6 separate regions of the Homo sapiens genome follow, and regions 2, 3, 4, 5 and 6 are each linked to region 1. Evidence: fine-mapped expression QTL. A gene starts in region 1. Each other region holds a variant in brackets. All regions are shown on one strand. Distances are between the middles of the regions. Region 1 holds the start of AFDN (afadin, adherens junction formation factor). Region 2 overlaps AFDN (afadin, adherens junction formation factor). Region 3 has its middle 31 kb from the start of LINC02538. Region 4 has its middle 30 kb from the start of LINC02487. Region 5 overlaps LINC01558 (long intergenic non-protein coding RNA 1558). Region 6 overlaps AFDN (afadin, adherens junction formation factor).

Evidence for each region. PIP is the estimated chance that this variant, and not a neighbour inherited with it, causes the effect.
Region 2: its variant is the best candidate, but not a certain one, in a credible set for the expression of AFDN in Th1/17 cells (Schmiedel 2018, PIP 0.61).
Region 3: its variant is the best candidate, but not a certain one, in a credible set for the expression of AFDN in whole blood (TOPMed, PIP 0.65).
Region 4: its variant is the best candidate, but not a certain one, in a credible set for the expression of AFDN in whole blood (INTERVAL, PIP 0.75).
Region 5: its variant is the best candidate, but not a certain one, in a credible set for the expression of AFDN in blood mononuclear cells (TOPMed, PIP 0.68).
Region 6: its variant is the best candidate, but not a certain one, in a credible set for the expression of AFDN in NK cells (Gilchrist 2021, PIP 0.62).

The regions. Positions count from the first base shown.
Region 1 is chr6:167,824,240-167,829,350 of GRCh38, reverse strand. AFDN (afadin, adherens junction formation factor) reads right to left here and starts at 2,440. Exons shown (of 34, transcript NM_001386888.1): 1 at 2,114-2,440. The coding sequence starts at 2,218. It overlaps AFDN-DT (AFDN divergent transcript), which reads left to right and starts at 2,555. Exons shown (of 2, transcript NR_027906.1): 1 at 2,555-3,948; 2 at 4,545-5,111. RefSeq lists silencers at 2,288-2,487, 3,402-3,471 and enhancers at 2,638-2,717, 2,748-2,817.
Region 2 is chr6:167,844,644-167,849,643 of GRCh38, reverse strand. All of the region lies in intron 1 of AFDN (afadin, adherens junction formation factor), which reads right to left. Among named protein-coding and RNA genes, the nearest start is that of AFDN, 20 kb to the right of the region's middle. The variant G/T (reference allele first, on the strand shown) is at 2,625.
Region 3 is chr6:167,645,701-167,650,811 of GRCh38, reverse strand. No RefSeq gene overlaps it. Among named protein-coding and RNA genes, the nearest start is that of LINC02538, 31 kb to the left of the region's middle. RefSeq lists a silencer at 2,917-3,117. The variant T/C (reference allele first, on the strand shown) is at 2,891.
Region 4 is chr6:167,723,817-167,728,927 of GRCh38, reverse strand. No RefSeq gene overlaps it. Among named protein-coding and RNA genes, the nearest start is that of LINC02487, 30 kb to the right of the region's middle. The variant A/C (reference allele first, on the strand shown) is at 2,601.
Region 5 is chr6:167,789,651-167,794,761 of GRCh38, reverse strand. LINC01558 (long intergenic non-protein coding RNA 1558) reads left to right here. Exons shown (of 4, transcript NR_026773.1): 2 at 3,669-3,815. Among named protein-coding and RNA genes, the nearest start is that of LINC01558, 4.7 kb to the left of the region's middle. The variant A/G (reference allele first, on the strand shown) is at 2,646.
Region 6 is chr6:167,945,200-167,950,199 of GRCh38, reverse strand. It overlaps AFDN (afadin, adherens junction formation factor), which reads right to left. Exons shown (of 34, transcript NM_001386888.1): 27 at 3,299-3,493; 28 at 2,256-2,347; 29 at 1,722-1,907. Among named protein-coding and RNA genes, the nearest start is that of HGC6.3, 32 kb to the left of the region's middle. The variant A/T (reference allele first, on the strand shown) is at 2,479.

The sequences.
Region 1 (5,111 bases):
AAAGATACAATATGTTAAATGCAAAGCTTAACTAGGACCAGAATAAATTTAATAGTACAGGAAAGTTCTCGAGAAAACAAAATAGAAATGTGAGCCAGCCACTATATAGTAAAAAAGCTAAAAAACCAATATATGGACATTCTTAAAAACCATTCATTTCATTATGAAAGGCTTCTAATACAATTCTGAAGAATAATTTCTAAAAATGGAAATGTTCAGATATAAGTAGGGAGAAAAATTAGGAAATGAAATATATCATCTTTTTTTCCAAGTCCTTCAATTCTTGTTTTGCTTCAGTGTATGTACAAAGCAAACTTTCACCTACAGTATAACTGAAAAAACAGCTTTCCAAATGACAGGCCAATTTTAAAAACTAGTCATATCACTAAGAAATAAAAAGTTTCAATTGAGTGCTTAAAATAGAATTTAATTAAATCAATGAACTATAATGTTTCTGATTTGAGATTTTTTTAATGCTAACTCAATTCAAAATCCCAAAAAGCTGAATTCTCTTTATTAAACCGAAAAAAGATTCCTTTCCACCAGACTTGAGAAATCTCTCAAAAAAAAAAAAAATCCATTCAAACAAAAAAAAAAAGCTACACACCAAGAAAATGTTTTATGGTCAACTTTTTTTACCTTGTGATAAAAAGAAAAATGAATTCATTATTCTAAAAGAAAACATAATCCTGAAACTAAATTATCATGTCACCTTTCTAAAGATACACTAGTCTATGAACGAACACTTAAGTACATAGTACTAACTCCCTTACTAGAACCTAACTCATAAAATCATTACAGAAGATGAATGAATCAGGAGTAACTTAACATAACATCTATGCTCAAATTGACAACCTGAGCCTAATGGCGTGTGTCAGTATTCAACTCAGTATTAAGACAAATGGCTAGCTACCCACGTCAAGTGCAGTCACAGGTACAGATGAAAACAGAAGAAATAGAGTCCTTCCCATGACTGGCAAAAACTCAAGAAATCAGAGAAGCAATAGTCAAATTCTCTCAAAAACATAAAGTGGAATTTAATGATAAAAGGATTACATTTCGTAAGAATGTTCAAATCTGCCAAACATGTTTTGTTGCCTAGGAGCTAGTATTTTATAGCAAGTATTAACTATAAATTACCTATTACAACAAATCAAAAATAGACGCTATTAAAATGATTTCCTAAACGGGCACAAATATTGAGTGAAATTTTTTTATGCTGGTAAAGTCTGTGCAGCCACCGAATGAACAGAGCGCGGAACCGACCCTTGCGGAGCGATTTACAGGGTTGCTCCCCGACCCTTCACCTCCCTCCCCTCTCCACGGAGCCCTTCCTAGTGGACTTGGACTCAAACATTTTTTTAAAAGCTGCTCGGAACGCTTTCAGCAGCTTTGCTATAAACAACCCCCATTGTTACCAGGCCAGGAGCGAGCGTGATTTCCTCCTCCTCTCAGGGAGCCAGCCTGGGGCCGGCGCCTCCCTCCGGGCAGAGGCCGCCGCAGAGGGCCCTTCCTCGCGGCCCCGAAGGTGGAGAAGGCGCGCCTTTCCTCGGAGGCGTCCGACTCCGGGCCTGTGCCATCAGGCAGCCCGCACCTCCCGAACTTTGTGATACTGACTTTCCCCTCCCAGCTGGCAGCCTGCAAGTTTATGAACCCGAAGCACAGCGCGCGTCACAGGCTCCATCCCGGCCACGGCGAAGGGGCGCCGCGAGCCACAACCGGGCTGCAGGTGGAGGGCGCCGGCCCCGCGCGCCGCCGCGCCCCCCGCGCCGCCGGGGATGAGGCCGGGGCCGCGCCGCGCTCGCGGGGGTGGGGGCGGCGGCCCAGGTGAGCCACCAGGTGAGCGGCCGGAGAGGGGAACAGGTGACTGCCGCGCCCCGCCAGCCCCCGCTCGGCCCGCGCGACCCCGGGATACACCGCGGCAGGGGGACGGGGGCTGCGGGGGACGCCGGGGCCCGCGGTGGGCCTGGGGGAGGGGGAGGGGAGAGAAGGGGCGGAGGGGGGAGGGGGAAAGGAGGGCGGGTCCGCGGCTGGCGGGCGGCGGCGGGGGGGAGGGGCGGGGCGCGGCGCAGCGGGCGGGGGTCGCGCAGGCCCCGCGCCCGGCGGTGCTCACCTCGGTCGGCTGGCTGATCTCGAACAGGTCCAGCCGGTTGGCGTTCCAGTGGTGGATGATGTCGGCCAGCTTCCGCCGCTCCTCGTCACGGCCGCCCGCCGACATGGTCCTGGCCGCGCCTCCTCAGCCGCGCGGGGCCGGGGCCGGAGGACGGGCCGAGGACGACAGGTCCGCGGGGGCCCGGCGCCCCTCGCCACCCCCCGCCGGCCGCCTCCGCCTCCGCGGCTGCCTCCGCCTCCGCGGCCGCGCCGCGTCCTCCGACTTGGCCTCCGCCTGGGGCTCAGTCCGCGCCGCGCCGCGCCGCCTCAGCCCCGCCGGCCGGTGTGCGCCCGGCGCCCGCCGCCCGCCGCCCGCACCCGCCCGCGCCCCGCCCGCCGCCGTGCGCGCCGCCGCCCGCCGTGCGCGCCGCCGCCCCGCGCGGCGCCGCCGCACCTCCGGGCCGCTCCACTAGGTGCTGCTGCCGCGGCCGCCAGGGAGGGAGGTGTCGGAGGGCGGGCCCCGCGCGGTGCTAGGGTTCCGTCTGGACTGGCGGTGGTGGGTCCCAACCGGCGGTACCGGGTTCCTTCCCGACCAGCGGTGCTAGGTTCGGTTCGGACGCGCGCTGCTGGATCTAAATGGGCAGTGCTGGGTCCGATGGGTGGTGCTGTGTTGGGTCCGGACGCGCGGTGCAGAGTCCGGACGGGCGGTGCTGGATCCAAATGGGCGGTGCTGGATCTGGACGGGCGGTGATGGGTCCGATGGGCGGTGCTATGTTCGGTTCGGACGGGCGGTGCTAGGTCTAAATGGGCGCTGCTGGGTCCGATGGGCGGTGCTGCGTTCGGTCCGGACGGGCGGGGACGGGCGGTGCTGGGTCCAAATGGGTGGTGATGGATCTGTGGACGGGCGGTGCTGGTTCCAGACGGGCGGTGCTGGGTCCAGACGGGCGGTGGGTCCGATGGGCGGTGCTAGGTTCGGTTCGGATGGGTGGTGCTAGGTCTAAATGGGCGGCGCCGGATCCGATGGGCGGTGCTGGGTTCGGTCCGGACTGGCGGGTCCGGGTCTGGACGGGCGGTGCTGGATCCAAATGGGGGTGCAGTGCTGGATCTGGACGGGCGGTGCTGGGTCCGAACGGGCGATGGGTCCCATGGGCGGTGCTAGGTTCGGTTCGGACTGGCGGTGCTGGGTCTAAATGGGCGGCGCTGGGTCCGATGGGTGGTACTGGGTCCGGACGGGCGGTTCTGGGTCTGGACGGGCGGTGCAGTATCCAAATGGGCGCTGCTGGGTCCGGACGGGCGGTGCTAGGTTCGGTCCGGACGGGTGGTGCTGGGTCTAAATGGGCGGTGCTAGGCTCAGCAGGGGACCGGTGGGCGTGGCGGCACAGGTACGGAGCGCAGGGCCGGTGGAGCGCCCTCTCCGAAGGGCCCTGCGCTCCCCGCGCTCGCTGCTCCTCCTGCCCGCGCATTGCCCCGGGGCTGCTGCGTGTTTCTTCCAGGGTGATTCCTTTCCGCTGGGTCACTTCAAAGCCGACCTTTTCAAGCTGTTTTCTTCCGCGGAGGACACGTTGTTAGGCTTTGTGTGCATTTCAAGGGTCATGTTTTCTGAACCGCGCTCTGCCGCTCTTGGGGTGTTCGAGCCCCCACACTGCTGTGCGGTGTTCCTCTCACAGAGTGAGGTTGGAGGGTCCCACTCCCTTTGTGTGTCTCCTTAGAAAACGCCTCTTCTCTCAGACACATCGTTATCTGCCAATTCTTCGCAGACGTAGAGAACGGACTGCAGAGTTAATAAACGTCGAGGGGAAGCTTTGATGCGCCCCATTTGGCCCTGAGAGATGCCACGTGATCGTCATTTTAAATCCTGTACGTGTCCCCGTGGACGTGGAAACCTGAAATTAATTTCAGTAGCAAGCTTTGTGAATTGTAGGGATTTTTTTTCATAAGGTGTCTTTTTTGTAATTGCCCCTCCCCTCCCCCACCCTTTGTTTTGGCTGCAGAGCGCCATCTCTGCAGTCTCCCCACGCCGGGTTCAGTCAGGCGAAGTTGCGTTATCTGTGATGTGTTGTAACAAAAAGCGTTTATCTTTGAAACACTAAGGCAAGTAATGAGAAGAGTGAACTATATTTGACAAAGCCTTTTTATTTTTGTCATTACTTTTTTTTCCAATGTGGAAATAATTTTTCTCTCCACCAACTGGATTTCCTCTTTTGCAGACAATTAAAGAATTCTGTCATCCCCACTGGGTTCTGTCTTTTCTACCGCACTTGTCCAGTACAGCTACATAAGGAGGCTTCTCAGCAGAGGAGCCTGGGGTGTTGAACCAGTGCCATGAGGGAATGAATTATTCAATAGATCGCTAGTCTCCTTTCTTAAAATTAAAGTGTGGTGACTTGCAGAAAAGCATCTGTGTCTAAATGTCATCTTCGTGTTCTAGCACTCGGTTTCTTTATGCCTTTCAGTTCCTGGGCTTCCCGATGGACTCGAGTTTTTACTATGTGAGCATCCCGGTGCCTGCACAGCAAGGACTCTCATTGGGTTCCACACGTGCTGCGCAGATCCCTGACGCAGCGTTCACTGAACCTCAACTGCAGGAGCTTCATTCCTGAGGACGCTGTTACCAAGAATGACTTGCCTCTTGAAGAATGAGTTTGCAAAGCCGGCAGTTAGATTGCTGATGTCCAAAGTAAGTATGTGTAGCATCACTAAAGAGAAAATTCAGGATTCCTGGAAAACAGTTATGGGCTCTCTGCAGTGTTATTTTTGTAATAAAAAACATATAGCATATGTGAAATACCTACTGGGTGATGCAGGACACATAGAAGGCTCGAAATTAATGTGAATCATTCTCGTTTTTCTGACTGTCATTAAAAGTCCCCATTTGTATTATGTATGAGTGGTATATCAATATCTAAACTACACTTTATTGTAGGTCCCAACCAACATTAGTTTATTGACAAATGTTTAAGAGCAGCCAAAAATTCATAGAATACCTATGATTCTTAAATCATGAACACTCCCATAACTGG
Region 2 (5,000 bases), 20 kb before region 1:
TTCTAAAAAGTACATTCTGAAACAAATTCTTTAGGTAAGTAATGGAATACACAATAGGCATGAACTCAAAGACAGGGATACAGAATATGATAAGAATATGGTAAGATGTGTAAAGTTCCATGAAACAAAAACCTCAAAATCACTGATTGGGTTTTTATAACATTACACTGTTCAAAAAAATCTCATATAAGGATACTTTTGAAGAAGGTACTATCATTTCTAGCTATAATTGAACACAAAATAAGAAACGGCAACAAACAAGAATGCAGAGTCAACCTAGAACATACAATACTAAACCTAAACATGTTGCTGGAAATCTCTCCCCCCCCACAAGTTACATTACATGATACAAAGATAAACATATAAAATCAAGGGAAAGAAAAAACCCACAAATACTAATGATGACAATGCACTACAAATAACAACAGTATAAATGCCTGCCTTATGCTAAACATTGTGCTAATAAGTACTTTTTATGCGTTATCTACTCCAATTTTCACAACAACCCCATAAGGTAGGTATTATTACTGTTCCTGTCTTACAGATGAAGAAACGGGGCCTAAGGAAGATCAAGTAAGTGGACCATGTTCACAGAGCTAATACCAGTGGGCCAGAATTCATACTCTGGCAATTTTGAAACAAGTCACTTTCAACCACTATGCGGCACTGCGTCTCATCCTGCTGTATAAAAATAAGGGTGGAAAACACCCAGTTCCAGCAGTATGGCAGACTAAACAATCAGTAATCATTGTACTATACAATAATACAAAATGAACATTCTGTTTAATACACAGCTGAGTCTGTAAAAAAGAGAAATCCAATTAAAGGGAAGTAAAGGCTAGATGAACATATGAAAACATGCTCACCGACGGAAATCAGGGTAACAAATTGAAATTATTATTTCAAATACTTTAGAGCATATCAACAAATCTGAATATATTGAGGAGGGTGAAGACTGAAGTTTGGAATATAAATTGGTAGAACCATTTCCAAGATCAATTTTGCAGGACCTAAAAAATCTGAATCTAAATATTCCACTTCTAGGTATTCATCCTAAAAATTTTACATCAGTACAGAAGAAAACATGGACAAGACTGTTCATTAAATCCACATTTGTAACTGTGGAAAAGTATATACAATTTATTAATCTCTGGATAGGGACAGAGATAGAATACGGACAACAGAATAATGCAAAGCTGTTAAATAAACTATATCTACTCATATGAAGTTTCACGTCAGTAGTTTTCTTGGGGGAGGCAGAAAGGGAGAAAGAAAACCCTTTCGCTATGTCTGTAACTCTTAATTCCTTAAACTTTCTGGACACTATTTAACTAAAAGAAATGTAAATAATAGTAATATATCCTTTGCTGATGTGGGAATCAAATGAAATAAGAGACTGGTTGTAATGCCTGAATCACTGCTAGGCATGGAACATGTTGTCAAAGAAATGTGACCATGATAGTTACGAATAAACTCAAGCCAAGGTATTCAAAAAGCTTGCCATTTAGGGAGGAGCTCCTGTTTCACCAAAGTGCTACCCCCACAGTTTCACATAGGGTAAATCAACAAAGACTTCTAGGATACTTGAGCAAAGCCTAATTGTAGGGAAAGAACATTCTAAGCCCAGGGAACAAGTACTAAGATCCCAGGCAGAATCCTGGTTGGCATAACTGACAAATAGCAAGCAGGCCCCTTGTGGCTATAGCAGAATGAGAAAGTGAAAAAACGGTATTAGGAATAAGGTTTGTAGGTCAAGGTACACTGAGTGATTAAAAAAAAATTGGGGAGTCTGAATAGAAACATTACATTATTTAACTTAAGGTTTAGAAGTGTATGTCTGTGTAGGAAACAGACTGTAAGGGGGCAAAGGCAGACAAGGGAAATAAATTAAGACTAAGTAAGAGGTTACTGGAACAACCCAGGTGGGAGATATGAAGTTAGCCTGGATTAATTCAGTAGTAAGAAGCAAAGATGGTGAAAAGTGGTTAAATTATAAAAATATTTTGAAAGTAGAGCTGACAGAATCTGCTGCTAAGATTAGATATGATCATGGTCTGAGAGGAAGAAAGGAATCCAGAAGAATGCCAGGCTGTGGACATTAGCAATTGGTAAAGTGAGCTGCTGTTCACTAAGACTTAGGAGAGGGCTGAAGAAGAAGCAGATGAGAGTGCGGTGCCGATGAGAGTGCAGTGGTGGGAAATCAGAGTTTAGTTTTGGACAGGCTCACTTTGAGATGCCTAGAGTGCACCTAAATAGAGATATGAGGGACTGGCTATATGGGGCTGAAGTTCAGAACAAGGGCCAAACTTAGAGATGTAAATTTGGAATATATTAGCACTTAAAACCACAAAAATGAAATATTTCACCTAGGGAATAAGTGGAGAAAAGAGTGTGTATTGGGATCAGACCCTGAGGTCTGGGCAACAGGCCAGTCCTGAAGACCAAGTGAAGGAAGAATTTGATGGAAGATGTGATCAACTGCTGCTGCATCAGAAGATAAACGACTGGATGTGTCAGCATGAAAGTCTTTAATGACTTTGAGGAGAGTGGTTTTCGTGAAGTTAAAAGCTGCTCCCACTTACGGTAAAAAAGCAAATGAAAAGCGTTCTAAAATTTAACTTTCA[G/T]CTTTAAAATTAAACAAACTGACAGAGTATAGACATACCTCACTATTTTTTTATTGTACAGATGACAGGTTTGCATCAATCAAATAACTAAACTGGCAAAACAATAATACAATTATTGAATGTCTTAACGCAGATTCAGTTGACGAATTATATTAAACAATATTTGATTTCTACTAACTCAGAGTTTTAATTATGACTTTTCTAATAGATTAACTCCCCTGAAAATGCCATTTCCTAGACATCCTATACTCCTCCCCCAAATCTCATAGAAGATTCTCTAAGATACATTGAAAAAAAAAAAAAAAACAACTTGGTTTTTTTTTTAAATATTATACTTTTTTCAATCTTCAATTATTTTCTTTACTGTGATGTTTGTGGAAATAAACTGAAAAAAAAAGCCATTTCATAAATATACATCACAACAAATAAAAAGTTAATGAGAAGTTTTAAGTAATCAGACAACCTTAACTATTTACAACTATCAGTAAGGCTAATTTCTACAAAGCTCATGGCTTATTTTTGAACTTTTAAAAGTTCACGCACTGGTTTTCGGGGAGTTTTGTTTATGTTCATTTATCCCCAAAACAGAAAAAAACACCCCTATAGTTCATTTTGAGAATCTTCTCAAAGTCACTGAAGTAAAATTATTTTAGTATTTTTGTAGTCATATGAAAAATTAGGAACTTAAAACATCTAAACTAGTCAACATTTAAAGATCTCATTAACAAACCTACATCCAAGGCTTCTTTCGATACCACGCAGTCCAGTCACAGAGAGTTTAATAAATTTGAACCTCATTTAAGGAAAAAAAAGACCGCCCAAGCTCTGATAAACTGCTACCTACTAGATGTAAAAGGAATGGGGTCCAAGCTATCCGCTGTAACTCAAGTGATATGGTTTGGCTGTGTGCCCCCACCCAAATCTCATCTCGAATCATAATCCCCTTATGTCAAGGGAGGGAAGTGATTGGATCATGGAGGCAGTTTCCCCCATGCTGTTCTTGTGACTGAGTGGAGATCTGATGGTTTTATAAGCATCTGGCATTTCCCCTGCTTGCACTCACTTCTCTCCTGCCACCTTGTGAAGAAGGTGCTTGCTTCTCCTTTGTCTTCCGTCATGATTGTTAAGTTTCCTGAGGTCTCCCCAGCCATGTGGAACTGATTCAACTAAACTTCTTTCCTTTATAAATTACCCAGTCTTGGGTAGTTCTTTATACCAGTGTAAAAACAGACTAATACACTAAGATATTTTGGGTTTTAAAAAATAAGTGCTCACTCAGTCTTTTTAGTTAAATTTCAAGTCCCCTAAAAATAAGAAAACAAAGTATTAAGAAATATTCATTTAGGCCAGGCGTGGTGGCTCACGCCTGTAATCCCAGCACTTTGGGAAGCCGAGGCAGACGGATCACCTGAGGTCAGGAGTTGGAAAGCAGTCTGACCAACATGGCGAAACCCTGTCTCTACTAAAAATACCATCTGCCTGTAATCCCAGCTACTAGGGAGACTGAGGCAGGAGAATCGCTTGAACCTGGGAGGTGGAGGTGCCAGTGAGCCAAGATCGCGCCATTGCACTCCAACCTGGGAAACAAGAGTAAAACTCTGTCTAAAAAAAGCAAGAAAAGAAAAGAAAAAGAAAAGAAAAGAAATATTCATTTAATAGCAAAAATACCATAAAATCAGAAGACCAAAATGACTGAGTAGGAAAAACTATTTATAAACACAGTAAAACATCAAAATGTTTATTTAAAAAGGATTTTCCATAAAAATTGACGAGAATAAAACAAATTTCTTGACAGAAAAACAGGCACTTCACATAGAAAGAAAATAAAGATGGCAAGAAACATTCATGAAAGATGCCCTGCTAAGTGCAGTGGCTCGTGTCTGTAATCTCAGCATTTTGGGAGGCCAAGGCAGGCAGACCATTTGAGCCCAAGAGTTCAAGACCAGTGTGGGCAACATAGTGAGACCACATCTTTATACAAATTTCTTAAAAATTAGCTGGGCATGGTGGCACATGCCTGTAGCCCCAGCTACTCAGGAGGCTGAGACGTGAGAATCATTTGAGCCTGGGAGGTCGAGGCTACAGTGAGCTATGATCGCGCCACTGCACTCCAGCCTGAGTGACAGAGTGAGACCCTGTCTCAAAAACCAAAAAAAAAAAAAAAAAAAAAGAAAAGAAAAGGATGCTCATTCTCAACAATGAATAAGGAATTACAAATTTTAAAACCAATGACACATTACTTTTTACCTGTCAGACTGAAAAGTTTAATTCATAATATGCAGTGTTAGGTAAAGGGTCATAGTCACAACAGTGGCAGCATAAACTGGAGGGCCCCCTACCTTTTGAATAATAACTTGGTAGTCTATCAATATTTTC
Region 3 (5,111 bases), 180 kb after region 1:
CTGTCAGTGCATGCTAAGTTTTTGCATTAATAACATATTTCTGCTGTGTTTTTATCCTCTTTTGCTTATGGAAAGCAAAAGTTCCATGAAAAATTCCAGAAAAATCTTTTTCCATAAAAAAGTTTCAGAAAGCCCGGTAAAGGTATCGTCCGAAACGTGTAGGCAGCTTTGGTTCGGGACATTTGCTTAGTTCAGTTATATAAACTTTATTACAATTAGATGTCCTAAAATAATAAAGAGAATATATGAAAGTTTAAGTGCCAAGAATGGTCTAGTAATCTTAACAGTAACACCTAGCATTTACTGAGTGCTACCACATGCTAGGAATTCTGTTTTAAATATATCGCCCCATCTAATCCTTTCAATGAGGAGTGGGTGAGAACACAGCCAGAGAGGTTCAATAACACACCAGACATCACACAGTGATCAAAGACGCATGGGGATTGGAACCAAAGTCTCCTGGTTGCAGAGCCTGCACTCTGTACCTGTATTCGGAAGGTCCTTGTTATTCACTTACGGTGAATTTGCTTAAAGGGAGTACCAGAAAATCAAAAAAATAGTGATAACCAGTTTGGTTTGGGACATTATCTTGAAAGGTGAAAATCAGAAGATAGGCACATAAATGTATTTTCTCACATATACAGGAAAATTAAGTTTTCACTTCTGACTAGTACTTAAAAGAAATGAGAAAGGAATCAAATGGGCGTTGGGGGGTTGGTGTCATTTTCCCAGTAGAATTTTACGTGACGTGATCCTGCCTTTCACCCTAGGTAGCTTCTGTGAATGTCTGTGTCAGCCTTCCCAAGGGCCTCTCTCTGATACTCAGATCATCTTCTGGGAATTTGTGGTTTGCCATGGTCTGTGTTGCGTTCCTCGTCCACTGCCAACTGAAGATGACCTTCCCAGCCTTGTTTCTGTGGGTGAGGGTAGAATAGCCGTCTCATGCGGGATCATGCCTCCTGCGAGATTTGTATTTTATTTTGTAGTTAGTTCTCACTGTGTACCAATGTTCAACCTTCCAGCCAGTGAGGAGCTGCTGTACCAGCCCTTCTGTGTTGAGCTGAGTATCAGCAGATATTGCCCTCCGCTCCCCCTTCCCTGCCCTACAGACTTTGGGTTTGGTCATGTGACTGGCCTTGGCCAATGGAGTGTGGGTGGCCATGATGTGATCAGAAGCTCTGAATGAATCGTGTGCTTGGCTCGGACCTTGGGCTCCTGAGAAGAATGCGTCTAAGGAGGATGAGAGGCACTAGGAGAAGACTTAAACCCAGCCTGCAGCTTGCACCCAAGACCAGGCAAACCTCGCTTACAAAACAGCCACCTGCCCCAGGCCAGGTTTTGATTTTGTTTCGGGTTTTTTTTTTTTTTTTTTTTTTGACGGAGTTTTGCTCTTTTTGCTCAGGCTGGAGTGCAATGGCTTGATCTCCGCTCATGCAACCTCCACCTCCCGGGTTCAGTGATTCACCTGCCTCAGCCTCCCCAGTAGCTGGGATTACAGGTGCGTGCCACCGCGCCCATTCCCAGCTGATTTTGTATTTTTAGTAGGCACGGGGTTTCACCATGTTGGCCAGGCTGGTCTTGAACTCCTGACCTCAGGTGATCTGCCCACATCGGCCTCCCAGAGTGCTGGGATTACAGCTGTGAGCCACCGTGCCCGGCCTATCCCGGGTCAGTTTTAATCACATGAACCACTGTGGACCTGCAGGTTGTGAGCACAGAATCGAGTTTCCTGGCATAGGTTGGAGTTTTGGAGTCACCTGTCCCACAGCCTGTTGCAGCGACAGCTCCGTGATGCACTGACTTCCAAAGACGTAGCCACACTGGGCAGAGTCAGACATGACATTGAAGCAGAGAGGGGTGTCTGGCTGTCCCTTTATTGGTGGACAGCTTCATAATTTTTGCTTTCCTCACAACCGCACAACTGTGGGGACTCTCATACTGTTTACTGGGTTTTCCAGGACTTTGCAGAAATAAATCTCAGGCAGGCCTGGGGTCTGCCCCAGCTGGGGCAATGGTTTATGTGAAAATTTAACTTTCAATTGTCCCAGTTTAGCAGGAAACACGGAGCTGGTTATCAGCTACTTCCATGTGGCATGTACTTTGGCACTTGTTTCCAGAACAGTTGGGGGAAGAGGAGTGGAAAACAGTGCAAAGAACTCTGGAAAAGGACACAGTTGGGTGTCTCCCAGGCCCTGAAGGGATTCTTAGACCCAACAGAGAGTGGCCTCGGTGCTGGGTGCTAGACCGACTCTCAAATCTCAGCATTTCTGAGCTGCAAAGGAGGAGGGCACAGTTCCTTATTGAAATAAATTATTCAAATTTATTGAAATGTCTCAAAAGGAGTTGAATTGGCCATGATCTAACTCCTCTTCCCTTCTTGCCCACCAACTCCCAAGAAAAAGTGGAGGTGGCCAATCACTGGGTACAGAAGGAGACAGAAAAGGAAGGGAGGGGTGCCTCAGGCTTAGGGAGAAGCTGCTCAGTAATGAGCTCCAGTGGGGGCTGCTGAGCCACACCCCCCAGGAGAAAGAGGCCCAGGGGGCCTGGCTCCCTTCCTGGAAGACCAATGACCTTCACGGCGGTGGTCATCGAAGGGTCTGGGCCAGGAGCTCAAGGAGCCTTCAGGTAGGGACATTTGTCTCACATGCATTCAGCTGCAAAATGAAAAGCAAAGTGAAAAACTCCCCATAACTACAATGAGCTGCAGCGAAAATGTGTGCACACTGGTCAGCATGCTCTGCTCTAACCCTGGGCAGCGATAATGTGTGCACCGGTCAGCATGCTGTCCTCTGCCCCTGGACAGCGATAATGTGTGCGCACTGGTCAGTATGCTCCTCTCTAACCCTGGACAGCGATAATGTGTGCACCGGTCAGCATGCTCTCCTTGCAA[T/C]AATGCGTGCGCACCAGTCAGCATGCTCCCCTCTGCCCCTGGACAGTGATAATGTGTGCACCAGTCAGCACGCTCTCCTCTGCCCCTGGACAGTGATAATGTGTGTGCACTGGTCAGCATGCTCTCCTCTGCCCCTGGACAGTGATAAAGTGTGGACTGGTCAGCATGCTCTCCTCTAACCCTGAATAGAGATAATGTGTGCACCGGTCAGTATGCTCCCCTCTGCCCCTGGACAACGATAATGTGTGCACCGGTCAGCATGCTTTCCTCTGCCCCTGGAATCCAGAACTAATCGCTGGCCCCAGTCCTATTTAGGTCCAAATGAAAAAGCAGCCATTGATCAGCTTTTTTGTATTCTGACAAAATCACACCCTACTGTGGGAGCTTTGTTAAACTCTATTCCTTGAGTCATCTAGAGGAATGTGACTGTGCTTCCTTCCTGTTTCTGTAAATTGGTCACAAAATGCAAAAACGGTTTTGGAGTCATGGCATGGCTTACCAAACTCAGTCAAAATTTGCATCTTTTCTCTTTATTTTTTGAATGATCAGTGTTGGTTTTTTGAGGAAATATAAACTTCTGATCCTGGGCTAGCAATGACTGGGAGTCACCATGGGAGCCCTGAAGGTGGAAGTGAAGTGTGGACATGGTATTCCCGTTAACTTGCAGGATACTCCAGATGTGTTGATGCCTTCACGAGTTGGCTCTTTGGCAGCCCAATAATGTGAAACTAAAGAAACAGCTTAACTTAAAATTTGGGGGAAAGTTAAAAATCTCATTTGGACGATTTTTACTATTAATTCCATTGAATTCTCTAATATTCTTTGTTGGCTTACAGGAAGTTGGATTGATAAAAATCTGAGGTTGTGATGTAATATTGAGGTTTCTTGATCAAAAAGACTTGAAGAAATTAAAGTCCAATATTAAACTTTTCTGTGATAAAAAGTGAATTAATGACTCAAGTGTCCAGACAGTGAGATATTAAGAAAGTTTATAACAATTGTAACAAATTCGTGTAGGTGTCTGTCTCCCCTCCTTCGCAACTTTGTGAATTGTCTGAATTTCTTTCTCTGGTGCCAGATGTTCTGTTTATGTTTATTCTTTTATTTTTACTTGCTTTGTAAAAATGTAGAAAATACAATCTCAAGGTGAACCACACTACTACCGCTCAGGTCAGTGTATAGACGGTCCTGTGGGTGATGGTGATCACAAACTGTCCCGCAGGAGGAAGGCATGGTCCTTGGCTCAATGGGAAGCATCTCTCTACCCTTCCTCACGTATGTTGCCTGTGCTGTGCACCCCGGTCCACAGGGTCCCATGTGTGTGGACGGAGACAGATGCATGGTTGGGTTCTGGGGGCTCCCCTACTCTGCGGCATGCAGGTGGCATTGGCTCATTTCATTGCCATCAGTTCTCCCATTGAATGCATGTTCTTTAATGTTATCCCCAGTAGAGTCTATAATTTCCTTTTTTCTTTTCTTTTCTTTTTTTTTTTTTTTTTTTTTTGAGACAGAGTCTCGCTCTGTCACCCAGGCTGGAGTATAGTGGTGTGATCTCTGCTCACCGCAACCTCCACCTCCTGGGTTCAAGTGATTCTCCTGCCTCAGCCTCCCGAGTAGCTGGGACTACAGGCACGCACCACCGCGCCTAGCTAATTACTGTATTTTTAGTAGAGATGGGGTTTCACCATGTTGGTCAGGGTGGTCTGAACTCCTGACCTCGTGATCTCCCTGCCTCGGCCTCCCAAAGTGCTGGGATTACAGGCATGAGCCACCGCGCCCGGCCCCCTTCTTTCTTAGTCACCTGGAGTGAAGCAGTGCTGGTCGTCGGGGGACACGAGGACCTTCCCACTTTGGAATCAACCCCTGAAGTCTAGCTGGGGAGAAATAGGAAAGAAAAAAAGTGGAGATTCCTGTTAAATATGGGGAAGGTTCTATAATTTGAACCTATCGTTAACATGTGATAATATATAAGATGACACAGGAAAGCAAATAGAAACATTAAAAATAACAGGCTTTCCTATTGGAGCAAAGCAAATAAAAACTTAGATACATTGGATTGGGTCAGATCTCAACTCTTCCACTCATTATCCATTTCTGCAGAGTCTTTAATGAAAAATAAAGAAGAATTCAAAGTCAGGGGTACCGTGTGTTGAAGTGTTGTTAACAGACAAACCTGGGAGAATCTCTTATGATTCGGGAGAACGCCTGAGGAGGTGACCCT
Region 4 (5,111 bases), 100 kb after region 1:
CCCATTTTTTAATCGAGGTGTTTATTTTCTTATTGTTGAGTTTTAAACGTTTTTGTACATTTTGGATAACAGTCCTTTATTAAATATGTCTCTGCAATTATTATTTTTTTCAGCCTCTGGCTTACCTTTTCATTTTCTTCACAGTGTCTTTTGCAGACCAGAAGTTTTTGAATCACGTCCAGTTTATCAATTATTTCTTTCATAAATCATGGATTTGATGTATCTAAAAGTCATTGCCAAACCCAAGGTCATCTAGGTTTTCTTCTATGTTACCTTCTAGGAGTTGTGTAGTTTTTTGCATTTTACAGTTATGTCTATGATCCACTTTGAGTTAATGTTTGTGAATGGTGTGAGATCTGTGTTTAGATTCATTCGTTGAAGGATGTTCAGTTGTTCCAGCATTGTTTACTGAAAAGATTAGCTTTGCTTCATTTTATTGCCTTTGTTCTTTTGTCAAAGACCAGTTGGCTGTATTTGTGTGGATATATTTTCAGACTCTATTCTGTCCCATTGATCTATTTGTCTCTCTCATATATATATATATATATATATATATATATATATATATATATAGCCAATACCAGAGTGTTCTTAGAGTAAGATGTAGCTTTAGAGTAAGTCTTGAAGTCAGGTAGTGTCTGTCCTCCAAGTTTGTTCTTCTCCTTCAATATTGTGTTGGCTAGTCTGGGTCTTTTGCCGCTTTTTATAACCTTTAGAATCAGTTCGTCAATATCCCCAAAATAACTTGCTGGGATTTTGATTGGGGTTGCATTAAATCTACAGATCAAGTTGGGAAGAATCTTGATAGCTTGACCATATTGAGTCTTTCTATCCAGGGACATGAAATATTTTCCTTCTTATTTAGTTTTTCTTTGATTCCTTTCATCAGAGTTTTGCGGTTTTCCTCATATAGATCTTTTGCATATTTTGTTAGATTTATTCTTAAGGTATTTCTTTTTTTTCAAGTGCTCTAATATCAATGGCATTATGTTTTTAATTTCAGATCCCCCTTGTTCATTGCTGTTATGTAGGAAAATGATTGACTTTTGGATATTATCTTGCAGTCTGCCACTTTGCTATTAATGTAATTGCTTGTTAGTTTCAGGTGTGTTTTCTGTGGTCATTTCTCTCAGATTTTCTACATAGACAATTACATCATCTGTAAACAAAGACAACTTTATTTCTTTCTTCCCATCTATATACCTTATATTTTATTTATTTGTTTATTGCATTAGCTGGGACTTTTAGTATGATGTTGCAAAGGAGTCTGGAGAGGCGACACCGTGCCTCGTTCCTGGTCTTAGTGGGAAAAGTTTTGAGTTTCTCACCAGTAAGTGTGATGTTAGCTGTAGGGTTTGTGTAGATATTCTTTATCAAGTTGAGGGAAGTTCTCATCTATCTCAGTTATCATTTTTAATAGCTGAATAAAAGGTATTACATCGAGTTCATGTTCAAAGCTGGTTAAGGCACCATCACCGTGAGGTTTCCATGCATTGCGCAGTCCAGAGTCCATGGTTATGGCCCTTCAGTTTCAGATGAAGAACAAAACCAGAGAAAGGCCCCAGAGCCACCCTGGAGTGTGGGGTGGAAAACACCAAGAGGCCTGTTTTTCCAGACCTTCTTTGAAGAGCTTCATCTTCAGGTACCAATGCAGTGGGGGTGGGTGTCAGAGGAAGGATGACTAAGTTGGGGCGCCCTCATGGCAGGGACAGCTTGGGATTGGGGACAACGCTCCTGTGTTGGCCTTCTGCATCTGGTTTAATTCTGTCCTGAGAGACATCAGCTCTGTTAGCTCCTGCCATGTCTCCAGAACCTCAGAGCTATGGATAAGTGAATGAACTTTACTACCTGATTTATGAGAAACACTTTGTGAGTGTTTTCCATTTCTTTTCTTCTTTAAAAAGGACAGCAAGAAAGAGACAAAAAAGGGAAGAAAGAGGACCTATTTCTGTCTCCTTATCTCCCTCCCACAGCCTCCTCTGCCTCCTGCCACTGTCCCTTCCCCAGTATTCCGGTGGCCCCTGGGGTCTGGCTTGCTGGTGCCACAGCTGGGAAAGATGCTGAGATTTCAGAATGTCTAGGTCTTAGTATCACATCGCAACTCTATTTCAGCATTTTCAGTGTTGATTTATAGTCAATCCTACTTAAAGAATATGTTCTAGAAATTACTTTAAGAGATTATCTAAACACGAAAACTTAGCCACCCTAGCAAGGACGTGTCCTCAGCTGAACTCTTGGTCAGCCTTAAATTATGTTTGATAATAATAATATCAAAAACCGGGTCAATAACACTGTCTTGTTACAATTGGAAAGGTGTCGTTCTCTCAAATTGTCATTTCCAAAGCAGGACTTATTTTCTTCTCTTGAACTCAAGGTAAATTCTAGCTGAGTGAACAGCTGAGAAGCCTGAACTCCTTTGTTAGTATTTTCAGATGAGGGCCTCTAATTGTCAGGCAGGAGTGCTGGATTCATGAAACTGGCTTAGGGCTGCTTTGGGCTTTTCACTAGCATATTTGCAAATGAGAAGAGAATTGGCAAGTGAAGATCCAATTTGCTCTGCCAATCACCCTCCATTTTCTCTTTGTATTTCCTATCGAGAC[A/C]GACAGATTTTAAATGGCTGAGCAACCTTCCGCGCTGGCTCAGGAACCTACAGTGTCAGTACGGAACAGGTCCTTTCAAACGGATTGGAAGAGGAACGTCAAACAGCATCTCAGAGGGCTCTTGGCATTGCGACCCAGGGGCTGCATTTCCATGTTATCTTGCAGACTTGTACAGTTCCCAAGCAGTGGCATGGAATGAGAATGTGGTCTTAGGGCTCTAATTCTCTATCAGGGCACTCCTACCTGGAGACCAGCTGAACACAGAGCAAAGTACAATTTACCAAGATAGAGAAAATTTGATGCTGGTGAGCATTTCAATCTGAAGCAGAGCTGGGCTACATTGACCAGCACGTGAAAGAGGGTGGGGAAGGGCAGCTCTGCCATGAGCATGAACCCACCAAATGGCCCAAAGTCCTGAGTCTCCTTTGTAGGACCACAGGCAATTCATGCAGCCTCTCTCTCTGTTTTCCCACCTGTGAACCTGAGGACTGTGATGATGCCCTGTTTGCGGAAAATCAAGATCAGAAACCTGAAAACACTTTGCGGGAGTCACACTCTCTACGCAAAGTATATATACATTAAAGGTAAAACCATATGATGAAATATTTTTCTATTGTGCTGTTGCTGAAGGTTGGTGAAACCAAAGACAAGGCACACTTAAGTTGCCAGAATAGTCAAGAAAAAGAACTGAGGTGAAAAATTGGCCCTATCAGATATCAAGACACAGTGAGAAGTGATTGGAATCTGTGTGATACAGGTTCAAAAAATCATTTTCATTGTTTAAAGTCAAGAGTCCGGACTCATTCAAATTAGTAAGGGGAATTATGGGTTATTTAATAAATGCTGTCAGGACAATCATTTATGTGTTTGGGAAGAAGAGATCCCAATTCACGGTATTGACAAAAATAATTTTCAGATAACTGAATGTTGTATCAAAAATTCTAAAACTTACACATGAAAATATGTTTCAGTTTTCAGAGGTGGGAATGGGTCTTCTTAAGATCCCAAAAGACAAAGAAATAAAAGATTGATAAATTTGATCTCCTAAAATTTTTGATGTTTAAAATTTTAAAAATAACTTTTATTGGAGTGTCATATACAAGCAGAAAAGAACACAAATCTGTGACTTCCTTTGACTAGCAGGATGGTGTATAACATGCTAGGTGATTTCACGGCTGGGGTTTGGGATATCTGCAGTTTCTGTTACCCGAGGCTTGGAATCCTCCCTCTTAAAAGCAAACTGTGAGAAACTCAAGTCTCATGAGGATAACTGAGGCACTGAGCTCCCAGCCAGTATCCAGCTTCCTGTATGTGAGTGCGCCATCTTGAACTTTCCAGCATGGTTAGTCCCTAGGATTGCAGCCTAGTGCAGTGGAGCCAACTCTCAGAAAATAAAGGTAAAACCTTATTGTTTTAAGCCACTAAGTTTTAGGATGCTTTGTTATGCACAACAGATAACAGAAATACTTCTTTCTTCACGGCTGTGCAGAATCACTTTTATCATAAACCAAGCATCGCAAGGAGAGTCTTGTTCAGGACTCTCCTGTTCCATTGCTCCAGTCCACCAATACCACAGAATTTACTTGGATCTCTTTATCTCAGTAACATGCGGAAGTTCTCTATGTAGAGTTCTTGCACATTTTGTTTGATTTATTCCTTTTATATTTCCTGAATATGCAATTATGTCATCTGCCCAAACTAGAGGGTTTTTTTTTCTTACTTTCTAATCCTTACGGTTGCCTTTTTGTTTTTTGTTTTTTTTTAATAGAACTGGCAAGGACCTCCAGGACAGTGTTGAATAGAAGTGTCAAAAGAGGCATCTCCCTCACTGCCAGGCTCAGAGGGAAAGTTTTCAGTATTCCGTATTATCTGCGATATTGGGTGAATACTGCTCTTTTCCTTTGTAGATACCTTTTATCAGATTATGGACATTCCCTTTTATTTCTAATTTGCCAAGAATTTTTAAATTATAAATGTTTGCTAAATTTGATTGCATTCCTTTTATTGCACATTTGAGATGATGCTGTGGCTTTTTCCTTTATTCTACTAATAGGTTGAATTATATTCATTGATTTTCAAATGTTAAACCAGCCTTGCCTTCCTGGTGTACATCTAATTTGGTTGCCATGTACTTTCTTTTTCTATGTTGTTACATTCAGGTTCTTTTTTGGTGTCTATGTTTTAAAGAGACATTGACCTGTAATTTTTCTTTTTGTAATATTCTCACCAGATGTTTAGTGTAATGGCTGTGCTGGCCTTATAAGCACACATTAAGAAGTTTTCTTGGCTGGGCGCAGTGGCTCATGCCTGTAATCCCAGCATTTTGGGAGGTGGGCAGATCACCTGAGGTCAGGAGTTTGAGACCAGCCTGGCCAACATGGTGAAACCCCGTCTCTACTAAAAATACAAAAAAATTAGGTGGGTATGGCGGGCGCCTGTAATTTCAACTACTTGGGAGGCTGAGGCAGGAGAATGGCTTGAACTTGGGAGGTGGAGGTTTCAGTAAGCCGA
Region 5 (5,111 bases), 35 kb after region 1:
AACAAATGTTTGGATGAGCACACGAATAAACACTATTTATTTGCTAAGTGTTGTAGGGAGCCTGCCTTAAAGAACCTTATCCATGTGAAACCAAGACGTCCCACCCTCCCCTTGGCAGGGCTGTTATATGACAACTCTCTGCAAAGGCCACCTCCCAGTGTGGTGGGAACCAGGGCCAGTCCCACACATGTGCACATTCTCCAGGTGGCGTGCGAGGCTGCTACGCTTGCAGGAGGGCTCTGAGGTGGCCGTGTGCCCGGACCTCTGCAGAGGCTACGGTGACAGAGGGCTCAGCAGAGTTACCTTCCACTGTGCACAGGAAGGAATGTGCCCTGAGTGCTGAGCTAAAGAGGAATACAGGGAGGTTTTCACCTGCGCCGGGCCCCTGTGCCACTACCATCTATTCATTAACAGATGTTTATTGAGCAGCGACTATAATTCAGGCGTTGTGTGCGTGATGGTAGCAAAACAACAGGGGAAGAAAGTCCATCGCCTCTCCCTTCCTGGAGCTTCCATATTGGTGAAGGAGATGGAAAGTAAAATGAAAAGCAAATATAAAATTACATATTTTACTATGTGCAATGAAAAAATATAAAGCGTGTGGTGACAGAGAATGGCAGGGAATGGATACTTAGTGTCATCAAGCAAGGATTTCAGAAGAATGCATCAACTTGGGGCTTGTGAGAATTAAAGACAGTTTTCGAAGCACTGAAGTGAATGAATTAATTTGGGCATAGGGGACTGGGACAGCTAGAGGGGTCTCAGAATCACACTCTGTGATGTGAGCAGGAGAAAATCCACCAGAAGCATGATGATGACTCCCAGGCTCTAGTTGGATCTTCTGGAATTTGAACAGAAACCTCAACAATTTTCTTTTGAAACTCTAAGATGCTCCATGTGAGGAGGACTTTTGGGCAGGTTCTTATCAAACATTATTTCAAGTACCATCATAAAATAAAGGAAACTGTGGCCTCCGTGGAGGCAATAAAGCGTCAATATTTCAGCAGTTATTCACACGCTTGTTTACACTGAAACCTGCTCCATCGACAGGTGGTAGAATCATTGTCAGGCTGGGCTCACAGACGTTGGTGTTACCAGGCGTAGGTTATCAACGCCCATGCCCAGAGGCCCTGGAAAACGGTGACCGAGGATGAATTAAAGGAAATTACACCAACAGGGCAACATGCCTGACATATTTCCAGAAACAGAAACAAAAGGATCTGCATAGCTAGGCCAGACCACAACACCATCTTGTAGAAGCACATCAGCCTCAAACCACTGCAGAAATGGACTTTGTACACCACACTTAGAAGAAGATATTCTTAAGGACTGTGTTTCAGTGTTAAACTTTACAGGCTAGGGAGATTTTTAAAAAAAATCATAATTCTTTGATTGTCTTTTTTTCAGCACAATGGTTTAAAATGATCCAGCTGGTTAGAAAAATGTCAGCATTGTCCTCACATGAAACATTGATCCACATGGGCACTGACACATTTCAGCTTCAATATTTGACATCAGATCAATCTTGCCTTCTCCTGCATTAGCAGCCCAATATTCAGGCCTGCAGACTGGAGGCTGCTGCACCTGGCTTTTTGCCATACGGGCTGACCCTCCCTAATTCAAAAACCTGGAATCCCAAATGCCCTGACATCTACAATGTTTAGAGCACTAACCTCATGCCACAAGTGAAACATTCCACACCTGACCTCATGTATTAATCTGTTTCCATGCTGCTGATAAAAACATACCCAAAACTGGGAAGAAACAGAGGTTTAGTTGGACTTACAGTTCCACATGGCCGGGGAGGCCTCAGAATCATGGCGGGAGGCAAAAGGCACTTCTTACATGGTGGCAGCAAGAGGAAAATGAGGAAGAAGCAAAAGCAGAAACCCCTGATAAAGCCATCAAATCTCATGAGACTTATTCACTATTAGGAGAACAGCACAGGAAAGACCGGCCCCCGTGATTCAATCACCTCCCCCTTGGTCCCTCCCACAACATGTGGGAATTCTGGGAGATACAATTCAAGTTGAGATTTGGGTGGGGACACAGCCAAACCATATCACCTCATGTGACAGGTTGCAGTCACAATGTAACCAAAATTTCATTACATTTACAAACTATTAAAAATATTGTATAAAATTACCTCAGGCTATGTGTATATAAAGCATGAATTTATTTTGTGTTTCAACTTGGGTAGCATCTCCAAGATGTCTCATTATGTATACGCAAATATTCCAAAATACGAAACAATAAAACACTCAAAACACTTCTGGTACCAGGCATTTCGAATAAGAGAGACTCCACTTGTACCAGCTCCGTATCCCACGGCTTTTGCAAAATCTCTATGACCTGGTGCTAAGGGACCTTTTGGGTTTAAAGCACTGCTTGTGTTGCTGATTCTGAAAGGGTTAAAGGGAGAGTAATCATTGATGGTGTCCCACAGCCATGCCCGCAGCCTGTCAAGCACAGGGAGGTTGAGAGAGAGAGCGGATTGGTCCAGGCGCAGCCACCCCTTCACTACCAAGCGTGCACTCATCCCAAGAGCCGCCACCCCGCACCCGCCAGGAACTGATCAGGAAGGAACAAGAAGGACATGGTTCTGTCCTCAGGGAACTTGGGGATAAATAACATATGCAATTAAG[A/G]TGTAAGACAAAATATATTCGTATAAAGTGCAAAAACACAGGCACATCACTCTCTGCCTTCAGAAGTGAGGGTGCCAGAGCTTGGTGCCTGGGAGTGGCCCGCAGAGGGTTCAGGGCTGCTGTGTGTTCAGGTTGTTCATCTGGCTCTGCTGATGAGGCTGAGTGCAGGCTGTGAAAATTCATCAAGCTGATACTTTAAGTGTACTTTCTGTATGTATGTTCTATTTCCATAAAAAGGGAGAAGTGAAAAAAATTAATGAGAAAGAAGGCTTGAGTTACAAAATCAGAAATTTCATCAGCTAGTCTACCTCTCTGCCGCCTTCTTCTCTGCCTGGGGTCTCTGCCAGAGTGGGCAGCACAGGAAGCTGCTGGACTCTAGGTGCCTTGCCGCCCTCAGAAACTCCACATTTCACAAAATGGTCAGATGCCAATGCAAATTAATGACGTAAGTTTATGTTGCTAAAATGATGACCCCAGGCAAAATAAACTCTTGCTTAATCCATGCTTTTTCTGGCAGCTTCACTTACCAAGGCTCCAGGTGACGCTGGGGTGTGCTGCTGGCCACTCACCTCACATGCTGCCCAGGCTAAGCTTGGATCCCCGGCTGCCCCCAGACCCCACGTGCTGTTGCCTGTACTGGGGCCGCCCCATCACCTGCTTGGTGCCCTGGTGCTCAGGGCCAGAGCTGGTTCAACTTCTGTATCACTGTGATGTATTTTCCTTCAGCTTTTTGAAAACAAACTTTTCAAGAAGGAACTAAGATCACGCAGTGTTCCCAGCACTGGTTAATATTAGACTAACACCTGCCCCGTGGTACATTTGATTGAACTGTGTTGTGGGGGAGATAACTGTCCTCCCTAAGTTCCCTGAGGACACAGCCATGTCCTTCTTGTTCAGTTCCTGGTGGGTGCTGGGTGACAGCTCATGGGATGAGTGCCGTGAAGGCTGTGGTTGATGGGCTGATGAAGGGGTGGCCGTGCCGGGACCCACCTGTCCTCCCCTCCTTCTCCCTGTGCCATGCAGATGTGGTCAACGGGCTGATGGGCACGGCTGTGGGACCCCATCATTCCCCTGCCCCGCATGACTCTGCTCTCCCAGCTCGACTGCTCACTTCAGACTTCCCTTATGGAAGGAGTTGCCAGATAGAGCAAGTAAAATACAGTGTGCCAGGTAAGTGTGCATTTACAATGACCATGGATTATTTTTTGGCATAATCTAATACATGGTAGTAGAGTAGGGTTGTATATAGTGTTATCTCAATCTAGTATAAGTTAAGAAATTATCTGTGGTTGATTGAAGTTCAGGTGGACCCAGGTGCCCTGTATTTGCCTGCTGCATGCTAGGGTACTGCCTAGCACACTATGCTGGGCCAATGTGTGTGTGTCTTAAGGGAAGGGCAGCTTTTCATCGTTCAACTCCCTGAAATTTTTTTAAGGGAGAGGGGACCAAAAAAACCCTTCATTCCCTCAAGTGAAATGTCTCACCCACTGCAATGGCGATAACTCGGAGGGTGAGTGGAATGGATGGAAACCCTTGAAGAGCAGATAAGAATTTAGGTGGAGGGTCCTTTGCTCTCTCAGGCAGGTTGGTGGATGCATGGGCTTTGGGCAGATGCCTGAAGCGGGGTGGATGTCCTGAGTAAGAGAGAGTAGGGTGGGTGGTGGGGGGTAGGGGCAGATGGTGAGGGGTAGGTGTGGATTATGGGGGGTAGGGGAGGATGGTGGGGGGTAGGGGAGGATGGTGAGGGGTAGTATTGGGTGATTGAGATGGGGTGGATGGTGAGGGGTATGGGTGGATGGTGAGGGGTATGGGTGGATGGTGAGGGGTATGGGTGGATGGTGGGGAGATGGATGATGAGGGGTAGGATTGGATGGTGGGGTTGGGGAGGATGGTGAGGGGTAGTATTGGGTGGCTGAGGATGGGGTGGATGGTGAGGGGTGGGGTGGATGGTGGGGAGCAGGGGTGGATGGTTGAGTGCAGGGGTGGATGACGGGGTATGGGGTGGACGGTGAGGGGTAAGGGTGGATGGTTGAGTGCAGGGGTGGATGGCTGAGTGCGGTGGTGATGGTGGCATGCAAGGGTGAATGGCAGGAATGGATGGTGTATTGTGGGGATGGATGATGGGGGTGGGGGTAGGGGTGGGGGGTGGTGTAAGGGTGGCTGGTTTAGTGCAGAGGTAGATAGTGGATAGTGTGCAGGGGTGGATGGGGGCATGGGGGTGGATGGTGGCATGCAGGGGTGGATGGGGAGGGTGAGGCTTGCATCTCTGGTGAGCCTTGAGTGAGACTGGAGCCTGTGGGTTGGAGCTGCTTCATCTACAAGGAGACAGGAGAGTTTTGTGTGGTGTTGACATTGCTATTGTATTATTCTGCCTGGGTTGCTGTCTGTGGACTGGGTAGTTTCAGCTTAAACCACATACATTGATTCCTCACAGTTCTGGAGGCCGGAAGTCCGAGATCCAGGGGG
Region 6 (5,000 bases), 120 kb before region 1:
CCAACAACAAAGATGAAGTATCACTTCAAAAAGCAGTAGTCTCACAGAAAAATGGAACATTTACTCCCAACATTTTGCTAGAGCTTTACTTAGTACACAGAGTCTCATTACTGGGGTATAAAATCTATGGACCACATAAAAACAGAGACTGTGCCTACCGCCGCTCCCTGCTGCCGGAAGGGCTGACCTGAGTCACTTCTCTGCTCCCTTAAGACTTTGCACTGGCCCCGGCTGCTGGCTCGCACTCTCCACCTCCTCGCTTAAACCCCATCATAACTTTTCATTCCACACTCTGGCCTGCCTCTCAGTTCCTCAACTCTCTCCTCTAGGTATTGTTTATCCATGTGAGGTAGAAACAAGTAGCAGCTGTATACTATAAATGTGAAGACGTAATGCCAGCCCCACACAACAGGAAATACTGTGCATAAAAATGGGATTCAATGTATGCACTACAAATTGGGTTGTCTTGACATATGGGAAGCAGATTCTCCTACGTTCTAACAAAAGATACTAGAAGGACTAGGGCACAAAATTACTCAATTTTTAAAGAGAAATTTGGAGAAAGACACCTTCTCCCAGATAACTCCAGCTTTTGGTGACAGAGTGCATCCAAAACTCCCAAGACTGGGCCGTTGCAGGTGATCAGGCCCACCTAGGAAAACAGCAGGATGGACCAGCACACCAGACAAAAGGCCAAGATGAAATCTCCTGATAGCCAACATCTGTGGCCTGAGGAGCATTTTCTGCCGTCAGAAAACAGGCTCCTCCTCATCTGTATCACAGCGTCCATCTCCTCAGTGCAATCCTCTCTCCGCTGCCTACTGTTCTCATTCTTCAAGGCTCAGCTCAAATTCCATCTCAACTCTGAATTCTGTCTTTTCCAACCACTCTAAGAATGCTAATCTTCAGAATTCCTAGAGCGTCTGCGATCCAGGGCATGTATTTGTCACAGATCCTAGACTGTAACTATTTTTAAGCATACCTTTAATTTCTTCTCCCAATCCTTCACCATACAAACAGTTATCTCTCTAAAAAGAAAACCACATTGGATAACGTTCCCCAGCTTAACTACTCAGATTGGCATCACCCGTCTACTAATGTGGACAAAAATCAAATTCCTTAGCTGTCATGTCAAGCCCTTCTGTCTGGCCCCGCCTATCTTCACTGCCTTAGATCTTGCCACCCCTTTCCCCTCTACCCAGGGTTCCTGCTGAACTACTACACATCTCTGTGCCTTTCCCTCCTCCTGGAAGGCCCTTCCGTGCATACAGCTGTGCCCAGGTTCTCGTCCAAGACTGAGAAGCTCCATCCCCTGCTGGGGCCTCTTCTCCCACAGCACTGACCATGCTGTGTCTGTTGTGTCTGTCTCATTTCCCTGCCACACCATGAGCTCCCACAGGCAGGGATAGCTCCTGATACAGTGCAAAATACACCACTTGAGTTCTAATTTCTCACTTCTAGAATCAGTGAACTTTGTCTTAAAAATTGTAAGGCCTTATATTCCTAACATTTTGTTAATCAAACATCAGAGAACAGATAATCCTTTTTCTTATTAAGTATTCTATCCTGTCTCCTTTTTTCCTCAAACTTAACCACAAAACCATTAAAGGAAAAACAAAAGGCCAACAATGCTGTTCTATAGAAAATATTAATTGTGTCTCAGAACTCAGTGTGTCCTCCTTGAGAGGTGAGAAAAGTGTGTGGAATCTTTGATTTCTAACCTGAATTGCAATACTGGAATGATTACTATCTGTGTGCATATGTGGCTTTTCCTCATAATTTGGCCACTGGTTCTGAGGAGGAGCCATCCGATCCTGGGATTTGGAAGCTGGGAAGGTAAAATACTCTCTGGTGTACGTCTGAGTGGGGATGGGGTAGGCTTCAGGTCTAGGCGGAGGCGTCTGCTCCTGTAAAATGTGAAGAACAAAAAAAGTGAGCTTTTTACAACCATACAGACTAACTTGATTTTCAATGATCTGTTTTAAAATTTAAAAAATAGTATATGTTAAATACTGCATTAAAAAGTGTTTGATCCATACTGAGAATAAATAACATTTCATTTTGCCCAGACTTATTAATTTAAAACTGATTTACCTGACTAGTATATTAAAAATCAAAAGATAAAACACTGCAAATTTAGAAATTATAATCAATGCTAATTCAGAGTAAAAATTGTACTAGATAACTGAGATGTCCAAAGGGAACCCTAAGGATGGAAATGCAGTAGAAGCCTTTTGCTTATCAATCAATCAGACCTCAGTGCAGAGGTTTCCAGTAGAGACAGATGTTATCTTCGCTGTTGTTCCAGAGGCATATGCACTTTTCCCTCCAGGACTAGGAGGCTGATCTGCTCAAGTCAGGGGGGAAAAAAAAAAGTGTAATATTAAATAAACAACCTATATATAACATGAAATTTCCTTAAAGACCTCATTCATCTTCATACTGCTAGTGAGTATCCAGCACAGAGATGAAAAAAAA[A/T]AATCAAGGCAGGTAAGAAATCAGGTCTTGTCATATCCACATCCATCTTTTAAATAATCAGAGCCCAGAGCTACAAAAAAACCTTTGTAGCTCTGTGTATCAGGCCAGGGACTGGTAAACATTTTTGGTAATAGGCCAGAAAGTAAATACTTTAGGCTTTGTGAGCCTTTGTCTCCTGCTGCATATCCTTCTATTATTTCTTCTTCTCTTTGTTAACAACCCTTTAAAAATGTAAAAAATATTGGCTGGGCATGGTGGCTCAAGCCTGTAATCCCAGCACTTTGGGAGGCCAAGGCGGGCAGATCACGAGGTCAGGAGATCGAGACCATCCTGGCTAACATGGTGAAACCCCGTCTCTACTAAAAATACAAAAAATTAGCCGGGCGTGGTGGTGGGCGCCCATAGTCCCAGCCACTCGGGAAGCTAAGGCAGGAGAATGGCATGAACCCAGGAGGTGGAGCTTGCAGTTAGCCGAGATCGCGCCACTGCACTGCACTCCAGCCTGGGCGAGAGAGTGAGACTCCGTCTCAAAAAAAAAAAAAAAAATGTAAAACATATTTTAGTTTCTCTTGGTAATTTACCAACCCCAAATAGAGATGTTATTAATGTATTTGCTTATGGGATCAACTGAATCTAAAGTTTTTCCATCTTAGTTTTTGTTAGAGAAATGTTACTTATGATATCCCTTATGAAAACCATATCCTAGTTAGCCAATGTTTGCAGAGAATAATTTTAATAATTAACAAACCACAAAGTGCCTCCTCTCACTTCAGACTGTGATCACAAGTGTACTTAGGAAGCAAAAAAGTGTCACTCTTACTTGCTACGTTGGGGCTGGAACGGTGATCAGCTCTATTTTTCATCAGTCTGTCATCACCAGGCAATTTCTTTGGTTCACTATATTCTGCCCAAGGCAGCTGAGGACTCTCAGGAGACCCATTTTGAGTTGAATTATTATAGAGCTCAAAGCCTTCACTCTTTGGTCGGGGTTTACCTGAGCCACGACGATCTGAAACTGGAATCAAAGCATATTCAGTATCTCTTAAGATTTTATTTTCAACACCCTGATTATCATTAAAATTCCATAAGAATTGTTCTTAGCATAAGAAATAAGGTGATAAAGGTCAATTCTTCCTACAGAATCATAAAACAGCTTTTAAGTAAATATACTGAGAATAAAGAAAATATTTTTACTTAATTAGTAATGATGGGAAGATAAACACTTTCAAAGCTTATTTTCTCATTAACTGAAACTTCACTATTTTAAGCAACAAATCTAACCATTTTTAAAGTATCTTTAAAAAAAAAATCAATAAAGATATATATGTTTCCCTGACTTTGTAGAAAAATATCTGAACTTTTAATCGCCCAGCGTCATCGTTCTGAGCAGCCGTCATGTGACGTGAGCCTTCCGCTCCTGGCGGCCGCTTCTGTCAGTTCTCCTCCTTTTTGCTTGCTCACCCTGGTTTATCATCTACTATTCACAGCTTCCCTCTGTGATTTCTAACTCACATTCTAGTTTGCTTCTTTTAAATGACCACTAACTAAGAAATTAGACAACCAAGATGTTAAGTTCTACGTGACATAAAAAGTAAACAACATGCTGAGCAAGGCAGACAATACCACACGAGGTTTTGTTGAGCTGCCCCTTGGGTGGTGTGTGTTTGCTTCAAGAAGCAGCAAGTCACGTTCTCTGATGCCTTGGCTGTGGCTGTGATTTGTTACTATTAGGTACCAACTTGAGGTTCTGGGTTGTGAGGTTTCTAGAATCCTGCCTTACGGAGGAGAAAGCCATAAAGGCCATATTTAGAAGTCTATGTATACATTTAACAAGTTGTGCTATGAATCACAATGGTTTTCTCCTATTGTGTCTGAACTAATTATTTTAAAAGCCCTAAATTTGTATTGATTTTATCCTGAGATTCTTTTTGATGTAGCTGTAAAACCACAGTTCCAGAAAATAAATTATTTAAATAATTAAGATGTTTAAGTGAATTACAGTCATGAACCAAATAAGCCCATTTTGGTCAATGATGAACCACATCCGTGACAGTGGTCTCCTAAGATTAAAACGGAGCTGAAAAATCCCTATCTTCTAAATGATCTTAGCCAGTGTAAAGCTGTAGTACAATGATTCCTCGTGTTTGTGGTCGTGCCAGACTGCACTGCTAGCTGTATACAAGTATAGTTCATACAATTATACACGGTATATAATACTTGATAATGTAATATGCGACTGGGTTGCTTGTTTATATATTTTACTATACTATATTTTTTATTGTTATTTTAGAGTGTACTCCCTTTACTTATAAAAAGAGTTAATGGTCAAGTAGCCCCAGGCAGGTCTGTCAGGAAGCCTTCCAGAAAAAGGCATTGTCACCACAGGAGGTGATGGCTCCATGGCATGTCACTGCCCCTGAAGACCTTCCCGTGGGACCAGATGTGGAGGTGGAAGACAGTGACACTGATAATCCTGACCCTGTGCAGGCCGAAGCTAATGTGTGTGCTTATGTACGAGATTT